2 separate regions of the Homo sapiens genome follow, and region 2 is linked to region 1. The links come from fine-mapping of genetic effects on gene expression. Tissue or cell type: whole blood. Region 1 holds a variant in brackets; the other region holds the start of a gene. All regions are shown on one strand. Distances are between the middles of the regions.

What was found. PIP is the estimated chance that this variant, and not a neighbour inherited with it, causes the effect.
Region 2: OTUD7A starts here. The variant in region 1 is fine-mapped to the expression of OTUD7A in whole blood (TOPMed, PIP 0.98).

Annotation. Positions count from the first base shown.
Region 1 is chr15:31,432,192-31,440,452 of GRCh38, forward strand. It overlaps a transcript of KLF13 not described here. Among named protein-coding and RNA genes, the nearest start is that of KLF13, 110 kb to the left of the region's middle. RefSeq lists an enhancer at 2,657-3,176. The variant G/A (reference allele first, on the strand shown) is at 3,260.
Region 2 is chr15:31,867,379-31,875,378 of GRCh38, forward strand. OTUD7A (OTU deubiquitinase 7A) reads right to left here and starts at 3,295. Exons shown (of 13, transcript NM_001382637.1): 1 at 3,129-3,295. RefSeq lists silencers at 468-762, 3,258-3,327.

The DNA.
Region 1 (8,261 bases):
GGGGAAGTGAAGTTGAGAATTTTTTTTCCTGGAGCTCTTGCACTGGAAAGGGGGCTCCTTCCTGACCGCCTCTCTCTGCTCCCTGTTTTCCTATCTAGACATGGCCTCTGCCCTCCGTAGAAGGTTCCATACCAGCCAACCGGGCCACACCTTCTCCTATACCTGGTCATTTTCTTTCTCTGTCTCCTTCCCTCCCTCCCTCCCTCCCTTTTCTTGATTCCTCCCTTTTCTTGCTTTCTTTCTTGTTCTCTCTTTCTTTCCTTTTTTTTTTTTTTAAAATAAGGTCTTACTCCGTTGCCCAGGCTGGAGTGCAGTGGTGTGATCACCGCTCACTGGAGCCTCAGTCTCCTGGGCTCAAGATATCCCCCTGCCTCAGCTTCCTGAGTAGCTGGGACTATAGGCATGCACCACCACACCCAGCTAACTTTTAATTTTTTTTGTAGAGATGGGGCCTTGCTTTGTTGCCCAGGCTAGTCTTGAACTCCTGGACTCAAGCGATCCTCTTGCCTTAACTTCCCAAAGTGCTGGCATTACAGGCATGAGCCACTGCACCTGGCCTGGTCATTTCCATTTGAAGCTGGATATTGTGAATTTTACCATGCTGGATGCTGGATATTTTTGTATTATTATAAATAATCTTAGGCTGGGTGCGGTAGCTCATGCCTGTAATCCCAACACTTTGGGAGGCCGAGGCAGGCGGATAACTTGAGGCCAGGAGTTCAAGACCAGCCTGGCCAACATGGTGAAACCCCATCTCTACTAAAAATACAAAAATTAGCTGGAATGGTGGCACATGCCTGATTCCAGCGCCCACTGCACTCCAGCCTGGGCGACAGAGCGAGACTCTGCCTCAAAACAAAGCAGAAAAATAAACACATAAATAATCTTGAGCTTTTTTTCTGAGATACAATGAAGCTACTGAGAAACTGTTTGATCTTGTTGGGTCTTGCTTTTATGATTTGTTAGGTGGGCGTGGAGCAGTGCTTAGTCCAGGGCTGAGTTTAGGCTACCCACTGAGTACTGTGCCCAATGGCCAGTGAATCAGGAGTTATGCGTTCTGGCTGGTGGGAGCCCCCTGGGAGCTCCAGCTGCTGTTCTTTACTTCCATGCGGTGGCTTTTCCCTGGCCCCAGGCAGTTTCTCCACACACATGAGGTGAATAACCGAGGAGTCCCTTTGCAGATGTCCAGGGCTGTGTTTTGCCAGCTCTCTCTGTTTAGGTCCTCTGTCCTAAAAACCCTAGCCACCTTGGTCTCCCTGGGCTGTCAGCTGTGTTCCCTTCTCTCAGGGAGTCCACTCTCTTCCACCAGGGTCCCCCCCTTCCCCAGTCCCTGTGTGCTCTGCACCCTGTACATGCGATCAGGGCAGTGAGCCAGGACTGTTGAAGAACTCACCTGTTTCCCACCTCCCGTTCTACTGAAGGCTATGGGCTAGGATGCCCGTCCAGCCTGTGGGCTCAGACTATGGCACCTTTGTGGGCCCCAGGGAATGTCATCTCAAAGATACCTCTGCCCTGAGAGCCCAGCCCTGTGAGGTCTCCCTGAGCCCTTGGTCTGGAAGCAGTGGTGCCCCTGTGTGGGCTGACACTGACTGGCCACTCAGGCTCCATGCAAGGGACATCAGTCCCACGCCAGTCCCTGGCAGCCGAGGCCACAGCTGCCCCACAGCCGCTCTTGCCCCTCCTGCAAAAGGTGTGGTTTGCCTAGCTCAGGGTCTTATCTGCCCTCGCCATGTGAAGAATCTTCTGGCCCCAGACCACCAGGAGACACCACCCCTCACATTTCTTTTTTGAGCACCTGCCAGATGTAGGAAATCTTTTTAGAACTAAGAGAAGATGGAGAGAGAACAGCCAAGTCCTACCCCAGAGAGATTCCCACCTAGTGGAGGGTAAGAGGCCTGCCATCATTGCCACTGGTGGTACAATGCTGGTGCCAAGACTGTGTGCCAGGCTCGTTGCTTCGCGTCCGTTACTTCATCTCAGCAGACAACTCTCAATATCCCCATTCTACGGATGGGGAAATGAGGCTCAGAGAGGTAAGTGACTTGCTCAGGTTCACACAGCTGCACACAGCTGGACATACAGCTGCCCACACAGTAAAATGCAGGATCAGTGGCAGCAGGAGAGAGACTTGCCAGTTGGAGAGCCAGGAAGGTGCACAGAGGAGGTGGCATTGAGCTGGCTCTGGGGATGGGCAGGCCTTTTATAGAGGACTGGGAAGAAGGGCCGGGAACCAACAGTACCCCCCAAGGGAGGTTCGAATCAGGTGCTTGCCCCCAGTTGAGCCAGAGTTGGGGTGTGGAAAGGCTTGGAAAGCAGGAGAGGCTGTGGATGGAGGTGGGAGAGGCTTGGAACTGGGTCTTTGCTATCTCAGGGGCGTGGAAGGGACTTTTGAGTTTGAGAATGACGTGTCTGGAGCTCCCTGGTTCCACGGGGCTGGACCTGCTAGGGCCTGAAGCGGGTTAAGAGCAGAAATCAAAAACAGGTTTGTTTGTGAGTCAGTAGCTGGGAAAATACTGGGAAGCAGGCTTCTTGGAGCTCCCCTTCATCCTCAGCCCTGTGGATTGGGCAGCAGCCCACGCCTCCCTGCCCCAGCCACAGCCCCCCGTCAATGCCGGCGCGCAGCAGCTTTTGCTCATCCTGCCCTGGTTCCAACCCCAAGGCCATGGGGCAGCCCACTGGGCGCCTTCCTGCATGGGTGTCCCCCTTTGCTGCTGTGTCTAGACTGCAGACACAAGTGCTGGCGGGGGCCGGGGGACTGGCCAAAACTAGGGCTGAAATCATGTTCAAAACCACAGTCAAGGCGGACTTGTCAGAAATATTCCTTTCCTTGAGCCGTCGCAGCTCAGCCTCCTTGAATCACCCTGGCCACTTCCTTCCTGTGTATATCTTATGCACGCTAAGGGACGGGGCGGGTGCAACGTGTGTGTTTTTACTTCTTTTAAGTTTTGTCTATGTTTTGTCCTTTCAATGTGTTGTAGGCTGTGGGGGCGGGGCTGTTCCGAGGGGCCTTTGTCACAGTAAGGGACACTGGGGACAGCTCGGGCTTTCTCTTCAAGCTGAAAACCTTTGGTTGTGAGAATGACTAGGAGAAGGGTCTCGCTAGGGTCATGCTTAGGACCCTTCGCAGGTGGTGTGTTTAATCTCAAAACGGCCTCAAGAGGCTCTCGATCTTTTACAGGTGACAAAGAAGACAAGGAAGACAAGGAAGGTGATCCGGGAGGCTGGAGAGCTTGTCAAGGTCACAGACCCACGGTTTTCC[G/A]CCCCCTAGGGTCCAAGCTCTTTCCTGGACATCTGCAGGCAATGTCGACACGCCCTCCAGTGTCTGTGGCGGGCAAAGGATGTGTCTCCACCCCCAGACCTTCCGATCCTGTGCTGAAAGTGTCCCTCAGCCTGTTTCCTGAGAAGCCCAGGGGCTTTTGGCTTGTTACTTTTTCTTTCTCTTGAAGTAAACAGAATAAAAGAGAGTTGCTCAGACGTCTTTGGCTGTGACCCACAGGAGATGATGCAATCTCCACGGCACCCCCACATGCATGTGTATGCACAGGCGTGTACAGATATCTAAAACTGGCACCAATTTCACAAAAACACTCACCCTTATGCGAGACACATTCACCCTACACTCATCCCCCATCTCTACAGAAAATTAAAGTATACATTCATAGTTGCTGTATTCATGCATGTACAGATGTATGTACATTTATTCATGTATGTGTATAACTTATGCCATTTTCATGAAACACTCACCCTACGTGTGATACACTCCTATTTTCTAGGAATCGCCGCCCACTGAGCTTATGTCCAAACCTTAGTGGATCATAGTCTAAGTTTGGCAAACACTGAGCCGGGAGGAGTCATGTCTGCAGGGCCCCAGGAGTCCCTTAATTTGGGTCCTGATCACTCTGCTCCACCCAGTGGAGCAGGCACATGCACTTGGCCCATAAGGAAGGAAAGGAGGGCGGGGGAAAAAGGGAGGGAGGGAGGGAGGGAGGGAAGGAGGGAGCACCTCCACCATCGTAGGCAGGACCTGTGAGAGCTGAACAGGGCCAGGCAGCTAGGCACCACTCTGGGACTCTGGGGTTTCTTAGGGGATGACTTGTTTCTGGGGTCCCAGTAGGAGGAACTCAGGGTGACGCCTCCGAGGATGTGAGTGCATGTGGCAGCCGGGCCCCTCAGCCCCTCTGTGTCCTGGTATCCTCTAAATGCAGATGATGGTGAGAATCCATGCCCAGCCCGTGGCTCGGCCCATCTCTGGGAGAGCGTGTTTACCACAGCACTTGGTGTGGTAGGAGGTGAGCAGGGTGGAAGTGCTTTGCATTCACGTGGGACTTCTGGCTCTCAGTTCATCCCACCCCCAGGGCCCGGCATGAGTGAGGCAAGGGTGGGTGGGAGGGTGCAGGATGTGGGAATGCCATGTGCTGTGCACTGCTCACTTCACCCCTCGCTCGCCCCAGTTGGGGTCCCAGACCAGGAAGCTCCATTCACAGAGGTGTGGCCTGGGGCTACTGCACTGCCCAGCAGGTTGTGGGGTCCCTTTACTCTATGCTGTGTGACAATGTTACCTTCCTGGAAAGAACCCGACCAGCCCCCTTTTGCTAGTCATTACCACAGATAGGAGAGAGAACTAAATATCTAGCCAGCCATCCTCTCGGAGCTCCGGAGCTCAGGTCACCAGGCTTCAGGGACTCGCTGCCATCCTCACAGGCTTAGATCCCTGCTGCAGGGTCAGCTAGGTAACCCCTGAGGGTGGGGTGTTCAAAGTTCAGGCTGCCCCCCAGACGTGTGGAATGCCAGCCCTGACTGCCAGGGCGATCTGAGGTGGACTGACCATCCCCTGGACACTTTCATGAAGTGTGGGCACGGGCGCGACAAGTGGCCATTTATCATCCTTCCCTGCAAAGACTGGGCCAGGTTAGAGATGGACCCCAGCAGTTTCATACCCACCAAGGGCACTGGGAGCTTCCACATAGTCACTGCCAGTAGTGGCTGCTGGCTGGGGAGAGGATCTTGGAATGCTGGTCACTGGAGGCCCTCACAGGTGACTGGGAATGTGGAGGAGCAGCAGGGTGCCTCTTCTCTGCCATGCCTTATGTTGGGGTTTGCTCTGGTTCCCCTCGCAGCCACTTACAGCTCCCCCATTGATGATGGGGCACTGCCAGCCCAAGGCCTGCCTCAAAGTCTAAATATCTGTGGGGTGGGGTGCAGGGAGGCGTGCACCCCAGAAAGCAATCCTGGGATCTCCCTTTCTACCTTAACCTTTCTTCCCACTCGGGGGCTTCCTCCCATGAGTGTTGTCAGGTCTTAGCAAATAAAAATACAGGATACCCAGTTATATTTGAATTTCAAATAAAAATTTGAGTAAGAGTTTAGTATAAGCACATCCCAAATGTTGCATGGATGTTCTGCATTTTATCTGGCAGCTGTACCTGCTAGACCTTGGGCTCTGTGGTCGGGTCTTTGGACATGACATCTGCACGGGCTGGGGGCTGAGGCTGCTGGCCAGGGCGAGCCAGGGCAGGCCACCAGGCTGCAGAACCCACATGCAGAGAATGGATGTGAGGAGAAGGGGCCAGAGGAAACAGGCCCTGCAGGTGCAGGAGAGAGAAGCTGCACACGCTCCCAAGGACCCGAGAGCACTCATGTGGGTGGGCCGTGGTCTCCTGTGGCCTGCTAGGAAATCCCCCTCTGCCTGAGCTCACTTGAGAAGGTCTCTGTTTCCCAAACCCTGTCCCCCATTGCACCCAACCCTGCAGTGAGTCACGAGGAGCTCTCCCATGAGGGGCAGAGGAGGCTCACTCAGTGACCCCTGTGCCACCCCACGTCAGAGGAGATGGGGCTCTCTAGTGGTCCTAGGAGCACCTCATTTCTGTCACATCCCCACCCCTGGGCCCACAGGACATGAGCTTGAAGGGAAATGGGAAGACTGGGCATGAGAGGGAAGGGCCAGGATAGACACACCCCCAGCAGAAGGGCCTGTGTCTTCCTGCTCCCACACAGAGGCCGGGTAACTTGCTTTTTTTACTAACAGGTTGGCCTTAGGGGAAAAGGGGACCTCACCAAAGGAGTGCTACTAGTGGGTCAGCCTAGCTTAGGAGAATTCTGTGTTGGGCTTTGCACCAAAGACCAATTAGTAATTGGAATTTTTCATTTATAACTGAGGATATGGCTCAAGCTAGCTTAAACAGAGAGAGGACACGTATCGGCTGTGTAATGGGTCATAGCTTCAGGCACAGTTGGTTCTAGAAGCTCAAGTTGGATCTGTATTCTCTCTCTCTTTCTCTCTCTCCACAATTCTATTCTGTTTCCCCCCTTTTTAGGCTTCTTCCTCAGACCAGCTCTCCCAGCAGCAAGCTGATCATCAATAACTCCAAGGTCAGAGAAGCTAGAGCTTCCAGAGCGGAGAGCTCAAGAAAGTCCCCATGGTCTTTCTGACTCCTCTCCCTTGGGTCATGTGCCCAGCCCCTTGGCTGGAGAGGCAGAACTGGGACCAGCCCAGTTCTTCACTCAGCCCAGTCACATCTTCACTCTTGTACAGGTAGGAGGTCCATGTACCAATGGGGAATGGGAGTGACCTCTGCAGGCCACACCCATGCTGAATTCTCTGCCTGCCTCCCGAGTGCATGTGTTCCTAAGTGAGGCTGAGTGCGGCTTCAGCTGATCTTAAGTACTTCACAAGAGACCTCTTCTCCATAGCACTCTGCGAGCACCCATTGTTGAGACTTCTAACAAGCCAATCAGATGGCCATGTAATTACAGACAGTTTCCAACTTATGATGGTTCCACTTATAATTTTCCTGATTTTATAATGGTGAGAAAGCAATATGTATTCAGTAGGAAGCGGTAAGATACTCTCTCGATGCCGGACACCAGCCACGTGATCACGATGGTAAACGACCTTATAGGGGACTGTGCGGCCAGACAATTTGCCCAGCTGTAGGCTAAATGAGTGTTCTGAGCATGTGTAAGGTAGGCTGGGATATGATGCTCAGTAGGTTAGGTGTATTACATGCAATTTCACCTTATGAAATCTTCAACCTACAATGGGTTTATTGGGATGTGACCTCATAGTAAGTCCAGGAGCACCTCTATGCAGCTGACAGGTGACAGAGTGCAGCCCCAGGCAGCAAGCCAGCCTCCTGTGAAAGCAGGGTGTAGGTAGAATCAGTCCACAGGCTCCGGCCCTTTGCTGATGGAGACTTTCAGCGCCGACCCCATCTGACTCTCCTCTCCTTCCAGACCCCTGGGAGATGACACTCCTGAATCCCTCACAGGGAGCGAGGTCATGTCATGGATGAAGGCTATGTCACCTCCAGGGGGAGGCATTTACCCGCCAATCTGACTCTCCAGGTCCTCTCATTCTTCCCACCCACAGTGACCATGGAGGAGGCCTCGGGTGGAGACCTGCCACCAGGGCGACTGCTCCTTCAAGAGTTGCCCATGTCTGAAGTGCACTTTATGTGAGGGGAAACGCACCTTCGCTGTGCTCAGCCTTGAGGTTAGGTGCTGTTTGGTGCTGCAGCACGTGTTGGCCTCCCCTGACACCTCAGCTATCCCTGGGCAATCTGAGGCCCCACCGCCCCCATGATAGCTCCTCTGCTCCTTCTCTCAGTCTCTTGGGATCTGCACCATGCCTCCCTCCTCTATCAAATATTCCTGGGCTGGCTGATTGAAATACTAATATGAGCTAATATCTTTTTTTAATTTAAATTGATGAAATTGTATATATGTATGGTATACAACATGATGTGCGATATACAGTATGTATACATTGTGGGTGTCTAAATCAAGCTAATTAACATATCCATTACCTCACCTACATTTTGGTGTAAGAACACTTAAAATGTACTCTCAGCAATTTTCAAGTCTATAATACGTTGTTATTAACTATAGTCGCCATACTGTACAATAGACTTCCTGAATTTATTCCTCCTCTTTAACTGAAATTTTGTATCTTTTTTTTTTCTTTTCTTTTTTTGAGACGGAGTTTCGCTCTTATTGCCCAGGCTGGAGTGCAATGGCATGATCTCGGCTCACGGCAACCTCCGCCTCCCGGTCCAAGCGATTCTCCTGCCTCAGCCTTCCGAGTAGCTGGGATTACAGGCATGCACCACCATGCCCGGCTAATTTTGTAGTTTTAGTAGAGACGGGGTTTCTCCATGTTGGTCAGGCTGGTCTCGAACTCCCGATCTCAGGTGATCCGCCCGTCTTGGCCTCCCAAAGTGTTGGGATAACAGGCGTTAGCCACCGCGCCCGGCCGAAATTTC
Region 2 (8,000 bases), 440 kb after region 1:
GGTCAGAGGCCATGACTTGCACACAGCTTGCTCAGAGCAAAGTGCCCCTTCCCTCCTCCACCAGGCTTGGGGGCCACAGGAATTACTTCCTAAGTGGACATCCGCCACCTATAATTCAGTGCAAGGGGTCAAATAGGCCCCTCTGGGAAGTACTACCACACAGGGTCCCAGGGCCTAAGTCAATCGGGAGTCAAAGCCAGGAGCAAACATCAAGGGTGTGCAGGAGAGGATTTCCACGGGGTTGCCCTGGCTGGCACATTCACGCCATGACCAGGACACCAGCCTGTAGTTCACTGAAGTCAACTTTCTCCTCTCCAAACTAACACTCACTTCCGCAGTCTGAGAAGGCACTCAATCCTGAGACTCAAAGTGTGCTAAGAGCCACCTTCCAAAGACATGGAGCCACTGAAGCAATCTCTGCTAGGGAGGCCTACATTCCAGACTCCACAACCTCTGGTCATTCAAGTATGTGCCCCCAACCCTTCCTTAAGTTTCCATCTCTTGGAAGACAGGCATGCGGGAGCGGAGGGGGAGGGGCGGGGGGCGGGGGCGGAGCACACCGGCGCACACACATGCACCCACCTCAACTTGGAGATCCACTCCCAAGGTGGCTCTGACACAGGCCCGCCAAGCCGCGTTTAGCACGCCCCCTGCTGGCCCACAAGAGCTAATTCAACCTTTCTTCCGTGGGCCTAAGGCATGAATAAATGACCTTAATATCCCAAAGGGAACAGAAAGAAAATCAGGGCAATTTTTACTTCTTAGAAACGGAAGATGTGACAGTGATCTCTTTTGGGAAATCACTGACAACTCCCAAATTTAAGCACTCTAAACATACAAGCGGGATGAAGAGGCTTTAAAGCGGTTGTTTTAAAATGTTTTGGGGAAATAAGTGACCCATACCTAAAGATTTAGTGGAAACACTTCCGTTTGAAGTTTTACTAGTACTACAGCGAGTTAAACCATAAACGTGGTGAATATTTTCACGAGTCTACAGGTGAAAACAAAAAGATGGATACGGGGCCAGATTGATTTCACAGACTCCATTTTCAAAGAGTTTGCAATGCAGACCCTGAAAAACCAATCTTCATACTATTGAGGACATGTTGTAAAGAAGAATCTCTGCCACAACTCAAGAGTTAAGTTCTACAGCAACTACACACAGCGGGAGCAGTGTCATCCAAAAGCAGCTCACTTGGAGCCAGTTTCTCATCTCACTTAGGCACACCATTGGGAATAAATGCGGCACCATCAGGAGGTCAGAGGCCAAGAATTACACACACTTGCTCAGAGAAAGGTGTCCCCTCTCCTTCTCCACCAAGCTTGGGGGCCTCAGGAGTTACTTTCTAAGGGAAAACCTGCCATCTATGATCCAGGCCCAAGTGAGACCCGCACGTGGCAATACTTCGTAAAGCGGCGATTTCCACCCATTATCAGCCTGAACACTAAAGGCCTAAGTAACCACTGTTTTCCCATTCTTTTCACACCAATACAGGGTTCAAGAGATTGAAGTTCCTAACCAGGTCCCAACTTTTGAGTGGCATATGGTATTAAATTCCTTACAGATCCAATAAAATCACACTAACAATTTAAGGCATGCTTATTTTAACCAATTAGGAGGTGTCATTAATTATTAAATACAAAAATGTCAATACTTTTGTCCCTTATTGGATATCCTTTCGATATGATAGGCTTGAGTAGATACTCAGATTGCCTTGGGAACTTGCTTAGTTTTGTTCCCATAAGAATTGGTACTAATGGCACACTCACAATAAAATAATGGAGTGTTGATCCCATTTAGTGGGGAATGTTTATCCAGAACTGAGTGTGCCGTGCAGATCTACCTCTGTTCTCGTGAACCCTCTTTGGGTCTTGAAGAGGCCTTTGAAGCTGGTGGGACACACGGCTGCTGGGAGGACCCTAGTGAACCTGCCTCCCCGCCTTCGCCCAGGGCAGGCTTCTCCGGGCACACCCTGGAGGAGGAGGAGGAGGATGGTGAAGGACACCTGCAGATTTTCCTGAAGCAATTAAGACCTGTAAAGATTTAGGCCCCGCTGTCAACCTTTTCCTGGACACATTATCTGCCTCATCATATTTTTAAAAATTGTTCCTCTTACAGCCCACTTCCATTTACAAAGGTATCACCTGGCGGTAACCATGTGCATGTCATACATGACTTTCCCCTGGATCCTTGTGCTGTGGATGAAGCGTTTCCCTGATCGGGGTCTCACAAGTTTCCCTTCAGCTACTCTTAAATCTATACATTCTCAAGCCAATAGACAGAAATAAAAGTCATTTGCACTTGTGTGAGGTAGCTGAGTTTACAGAGCAGAGGCAAATCCATTTTATTACAGAGATTCTCAAAGGGCTGCAATAGCTTCACCGGGAGGGAGGAGGGTACACTTGAGCGGTTGTGTCCAATGAAGGAAAGTTTTAGTTAATGATGACATCACTGACATCTCCCAAATTTAAAGGAGCACTTAAAGCACCGCAGATGCAATTTTTTCCCCTCCAGTGAGGAGATACTAGGGAAGGCCTCTGGGTTCACAGCCAAATTGCCTTAATGGTTTGCCTGCTGTCCAGCGAGACCCAGCAGAGCGAGCGGGACGGCGGTGCGCCGGGCCGCGGGGACCCACGCAGTCACAGCTCCGGTGCCCGGCGAGCGGCCTCGCGCGCGGCTCGGGGCCGGGCCCTGCCCGGCCGTCTGCAAGAGCCGCGGGACCCCCGACGCGCGCGCACGGACCGAGGGGTCGGTCGCCCCACGCCTGGCATCACGTTCCAGTGCGGACAGCCAAAGGGCTGAGCGGAGGCAGCAGCCCCGACCCAGCGGTAGCGCCGCGCCCTGCCCGAGAGAGGCGCGCCACGCCGGGCCGGAGCCGGTGGCCCGGGAGCCCGCGGGGTCCGGAGCGGAGCCCGCAATGCAGACGCGCCGGCGAGCCCAGCCGGGGCCCGCGCCCCCCGCGTCCCCGCGCCCCGGCCCCGCGGTCGCCCGGCCTCAACGCCCACCTGCCTCGCCACGGAGCTCGGGAAGGAGACGGCGCCGGCCCCGCGCCCGGAGAGCGCACCTGCCTGGTCCGCGGGCCCGGCCCCGCCGCCCGCCGGCAGCACCGCGGCCAGCGCCGTCTTACCTGCCGCGCCGCGCCGCTCCGCTCCGCCAGCCCGCAGCGCCGCAGTCGCCGCTACCCGACTTCCATTTTCTCTCGCTTTAAAGGAAAACCAGATCAGCTGTTTTGCTCCCGCTCGGGCTCCGCGGCCCCCTCCCCAGCTGCCGCTCGCGGTCCCGGTGGCCTCTCCTCCCCCGCCTCCTCCCGCGCTCCGCTCCGCCCCTCGCGCCCCTCCGCTCCGCCCGCGGCCGCGCACAACGCCCGCCTCCCGGCTCCGCCTGCTGCCTCCGGGCGCGCGCCCTCCTCTGACGTCACCGGTCGCGTTCGCGCCCCGCCCCCGCCCCGCGCGGACGTGCGCGCGCCGCGCCTGTGCCCCGCCCCCGCCCCTCCGGGGCCGGGCACGGAGAGCGCGTGCTCGCGGCCGCGAGCCGAGGAGGGGACGTACAGCGCCCGCGCGCCCGCGAGCCCGCTCCGGCTCTCCCATGCTTGCCCCTCGGGGTGCTCCTTCTGCGCTCTCCGCCTGGACTGCAGGAAAAGGCTGCTTAAACAGCCTGCCTTTTCCTGCTGCCTGACTCGCGCCATCTGCGGCCACCTGTCTCGTTTCTTCCCCCTGGCTGGCGCACCCTTCCTTCCTAAACATCCCAAACTTTCTCCCACCCAGGCTGTCCAGGCTGCAGTTTCTACGCCCTGCGCTGGGGCCTGTGCATCACGCCTAATCCAAAGCTGGTCCTTTTACCTCCCAAAAAGGTTCTCTGACCTTTTCCCATTTTTTGCCTTCCTCTAAAGACTTTTTCACGCCACCCCTTCAGATGGTTCCCCTCCCTGATGGCAAGACCTGCTCGCTGCTCTGGGCCCTTCTCACGTCACCCTGTAGATGTAGTCACGCTTCCTTATCCCAAACAGGACGTTATATTGCAGATGACCCATACCATCCTGGTGTACTTCTAAACAATCATTATTTTACTTTTAGTTTAGGACTTTTTGCTTGACTTTAAACATTGTATATGTTTAATAGTGTTTAATAATTTATTTGACTTTTAAAATTGATATTCAGTAAAATTGGTTATTTGATATATAATCCTGTGATCTTGAACCCTTGTTTGGATTCATGTAACCACTAGCGCAATAAAGAGCTCCCTAGTTCTGCCCTTTTATAACAGCGCCCCCGCCAACCCTAACTTTTGGTAACCACTGATAGGTTCTCCATTGCTACGGTTTTGTCTTTGTGAGTGTGTCGTATACATGGAATTACGCAATATGTAACATTTTGAAACTGACTTTATTCCCTCATCATTATACCTTGGAGATTCATCCATGTTATTGTGTATAGTAATAGTCCTTTTTATTGTTGAGGGGAGTCTCATTATTTGTACCACATTTTGTTTAGTCACCCACTGGAGAATATTTGCGTGGTTTCCAGTTTTTGGCGACTGTGAATAAACATTCTATAAACATTTGCATGCAGCGTTTTGTACGGACAAATTTTTTAAATTAGTTGACTAAATATCTAGGAGTGCAATTGCTAGATCTTATGGTAAATTTGTTTAACTTTATAAGAACCAAACAGTTTTCTAGAGTGGCTATAGCATTTTTATAACTGTCAGCAAATATGAATCCCTTTCCTTCATCCTCACCAGCACTTGATATTGGCTATCTTTATCTATCTATCTGTCCATCCATCCATCCATCCGTCTATCATCTATAATTTTAGACATTCTAGTAGGCATATAGTGCTATATCGTTGTTAATTTTCAATTTTCTACTGAAAAATTATGTGGAGCAACTTTTCATATGCACCTGTATATCTTCTTTGGTGAGATGTTTGTTCACATCTTTTGCCCATTAAAAAAAAAAGGTTGTTTTCTTATGGTTGAGTTTTAAGAGTTCTTTGTGTATTTTGGATAGAAGTACTTTATCTGATACGTGTTTTGCAGGTATTTTCTTCCAGTGGAAGCTTGTCTTTTCATTCTCTTAACAGTCCTGTCCTGAATTTAGGGGAAGTATCCAGTTTCTTACCACTAAATATGATGTTAGCAGTAGGATTTTTTTAGTTCTTCTTTATCAAGATTAGGAAGTTCTCTCTATTCCTAGTTTGCAGAGTTTTTATCATGAATGAATGTTGGATTTTGCCAAATTCGTTTTCTGCATCTATTGATACGGTCATGTGATTTTATTTTCTTTAGCTTGTTGATATGATGGGTTACATTGATTTTCAATTGATTTTCAAGGAACCGGTCTTGCATACTTGGGTCAAATTCTACTTGGGCATGGTATATAATTGTTTTTATACACCATTGTATTCAATATGCTAATATTTTGTTGAAGACTTTTGCATCTATGTTCATGAGAAATATTTGGCTATAGTTTTCTTTTTTGTAATGTCTTTAATTTATTTTGGTATGCCGGTAATGCTGGCCTCATAAAATGAGTTAAGAAGTAATATTTACTTGTATTTTCTGTAAGAAATTGTAAAGAACCTATATCAATTCTTCCATAAATGTTTGGTAAAATTCCCTGGTGAAACCATCTGAATCTGGTGATTTTTTTGAGACTTCATTAATTATTGATTCTTTGTGGATACAGAGCTATTAGGTGATCTGTTTGCTTTTCTGTAAAATGTAGTTGTATCATTCAAGGAATCGGTCCTTTTTATCTAATATTCAAACTTGTGGGTGTAAAGTTGTTCATCATAAACCTTTATTATTCTTTTAACATCTATGAAATTAGTAGAGATGACGCCTCTTTCATTTTTTGATATTGGCAAACTATGCCCAATGTCTTTTTTTCTTGGTTAACCTGGACAGGTTTATTAATTTTAATCATCTTTTCAGCTTTTTCTTTGTTTTGTTGATTTTTTTCTATTGTTTTCTATTTTCAATTTCATTCTCTAATTTTTATTATTCCTCTTTGTTCTGCTTGTTTTAGGCTTAAATTGCTCTTCTTTCTCTATTATCCAAGGTGACAATTTAGGTTGTTGATTTTAGATTTTTCTTCTTTTCAAATGTATACATTTACTGCTATAAATATCCCCGCTTTTACTGCATCCCACAAATTTAGAAAAGTTGTACTTTAATTTTTATTTAGATCAATGTTTTTAGTTATTCTTGAGATTCCTCTTTGACCCAAATGTTTTTTAAAAATGTGTTGTTTAGTTTCCAATAATTTGGGACTTTCCAGCTATCATTCTGTTCTTGATTTCTAGGTTACTTCCATTGTGGTATGAAGACATACTTTGTTTAATTTCTATTTTTCTTTAATTTGATAAGGTGTGTTTTATAGATCAGAATGTGGCCAATGTTGGTGATTATTCCATGCCAGCTTGAGAAGAATGTGTATTGTGCTATTGCTAGATCTACAAATATCAATTAAATAAAGTTGATAATGCTGTTTAGGTCAATTATATCCTCACCGATTTTTTGCCTATCTGATCTTATCAATCATGGATAGAGAAATGTTGAAGTATCCTATGATAGTGGATTGGACCATTTTTTCTTTCAGGTTTATCATTTTTTCCTCACTTATTTTGACATTTTATTCTTAGGCACATGCATATTTAGGGTTATTATGTATTCTTGGAGAATTAGCCCCTTTATGATTATGAGTTTCTTACCTATCCCTCCCCTCACATCCCTGATAATTTTCCTTTTTCTCAAGTCCCTTTTATCTGAAATTAATGCAGCTACTCCAGTTTTCTTTTGATCAGGGTTAACATGGTATATCTTTCTTCATCCCTTTACTTTTAACCAAACAGATACTTTATATTTAATGTCAACAAGATATAGTGGGGTCTTGTTTTGTTATCTACTCTAGCAATCTGTGTCTTTTAATTGGTGTATTTAGACCATTCACATTTAACACAATTGTTGATCTATTTGGATGAATATCAATCATATTTGTAACTGTTTCCTACTGGTTGCCAGTGGCGGCTTTTTCTGCCTTCTCCGATTTTAATTGAGCATTTTGTGTGGTTCTATTTTATCTTCTCTTAAAGAGTATCAATTATACTTTTTAAAGAATTTTTTAGTGGCCATTCTAGAGTTTCTTTTTTCTTTGCTTTGCTTTTTTTTTAAGACAAAGTCTGGCTCTATTGCCTAGGCTGGAGTGCGGTGGTGCCATCTCGGCTCACTGCATCCTCTGCCTCCTGGGTTCAAGCCATCCTCCCAGCTTAGCCCCCTGAGTAGCTTACCATGCCCAGCTAATCTTTGCAATTTTTGTAGAGACAGGATTTCACCATGTTGTCCAGGCTGGTCTCAAGCTCGTTAGCTCAAGCAATCTGCCTGCCTTGGCCTCCCAAAGTGCTGGGATTACAGGTCTGAGCCATCATGTCCAGCCTAGAGTTTCTAATATAGATTTTCTTCTTTTACTAATGTGTGTTCACCTTCAAATCATGGTATTGTTTCACATGTAACGTAGATATCTTATAAGAGTGTGTTCCCAATCCTCCCTCCCATTCCTCGTAGCATTGCTGTTAGTCTTTTCTCTTATCCATATGCTACAATGACCTGTTACTATTTTTGCTTTAAATAAGAAGTTATCCTTTAAATTATTAATGAAAATAAAAATAAAAGATTTCATTTTACCTCCATTTATTGCTTCTCCAACACTTCCTTTCTTAATATAGATCCAAGTTTCTGACCTACATCATCTTCCTTCTGTCTGGAGAAAATCTTTTAACATTTCTTGAAGGACAGGTCTGATGGTGAATTACCTCAGCAAGTAAGTCCCTATTTTTCTTCTTCTTTTTTTTTTTTTTTTTTTTTTTTTTTGAGACAGAGTCTCGCTCTGTCGCCCAGGCTGGAGTGCAGTGGCGCGACCTCGGCTCACTGCAAGCTCCGCCTCCCGGGTTCACGTCATTCTCCTGCCTCAGCCTCCCAAGTAGCTGGGACTACAGGCGCC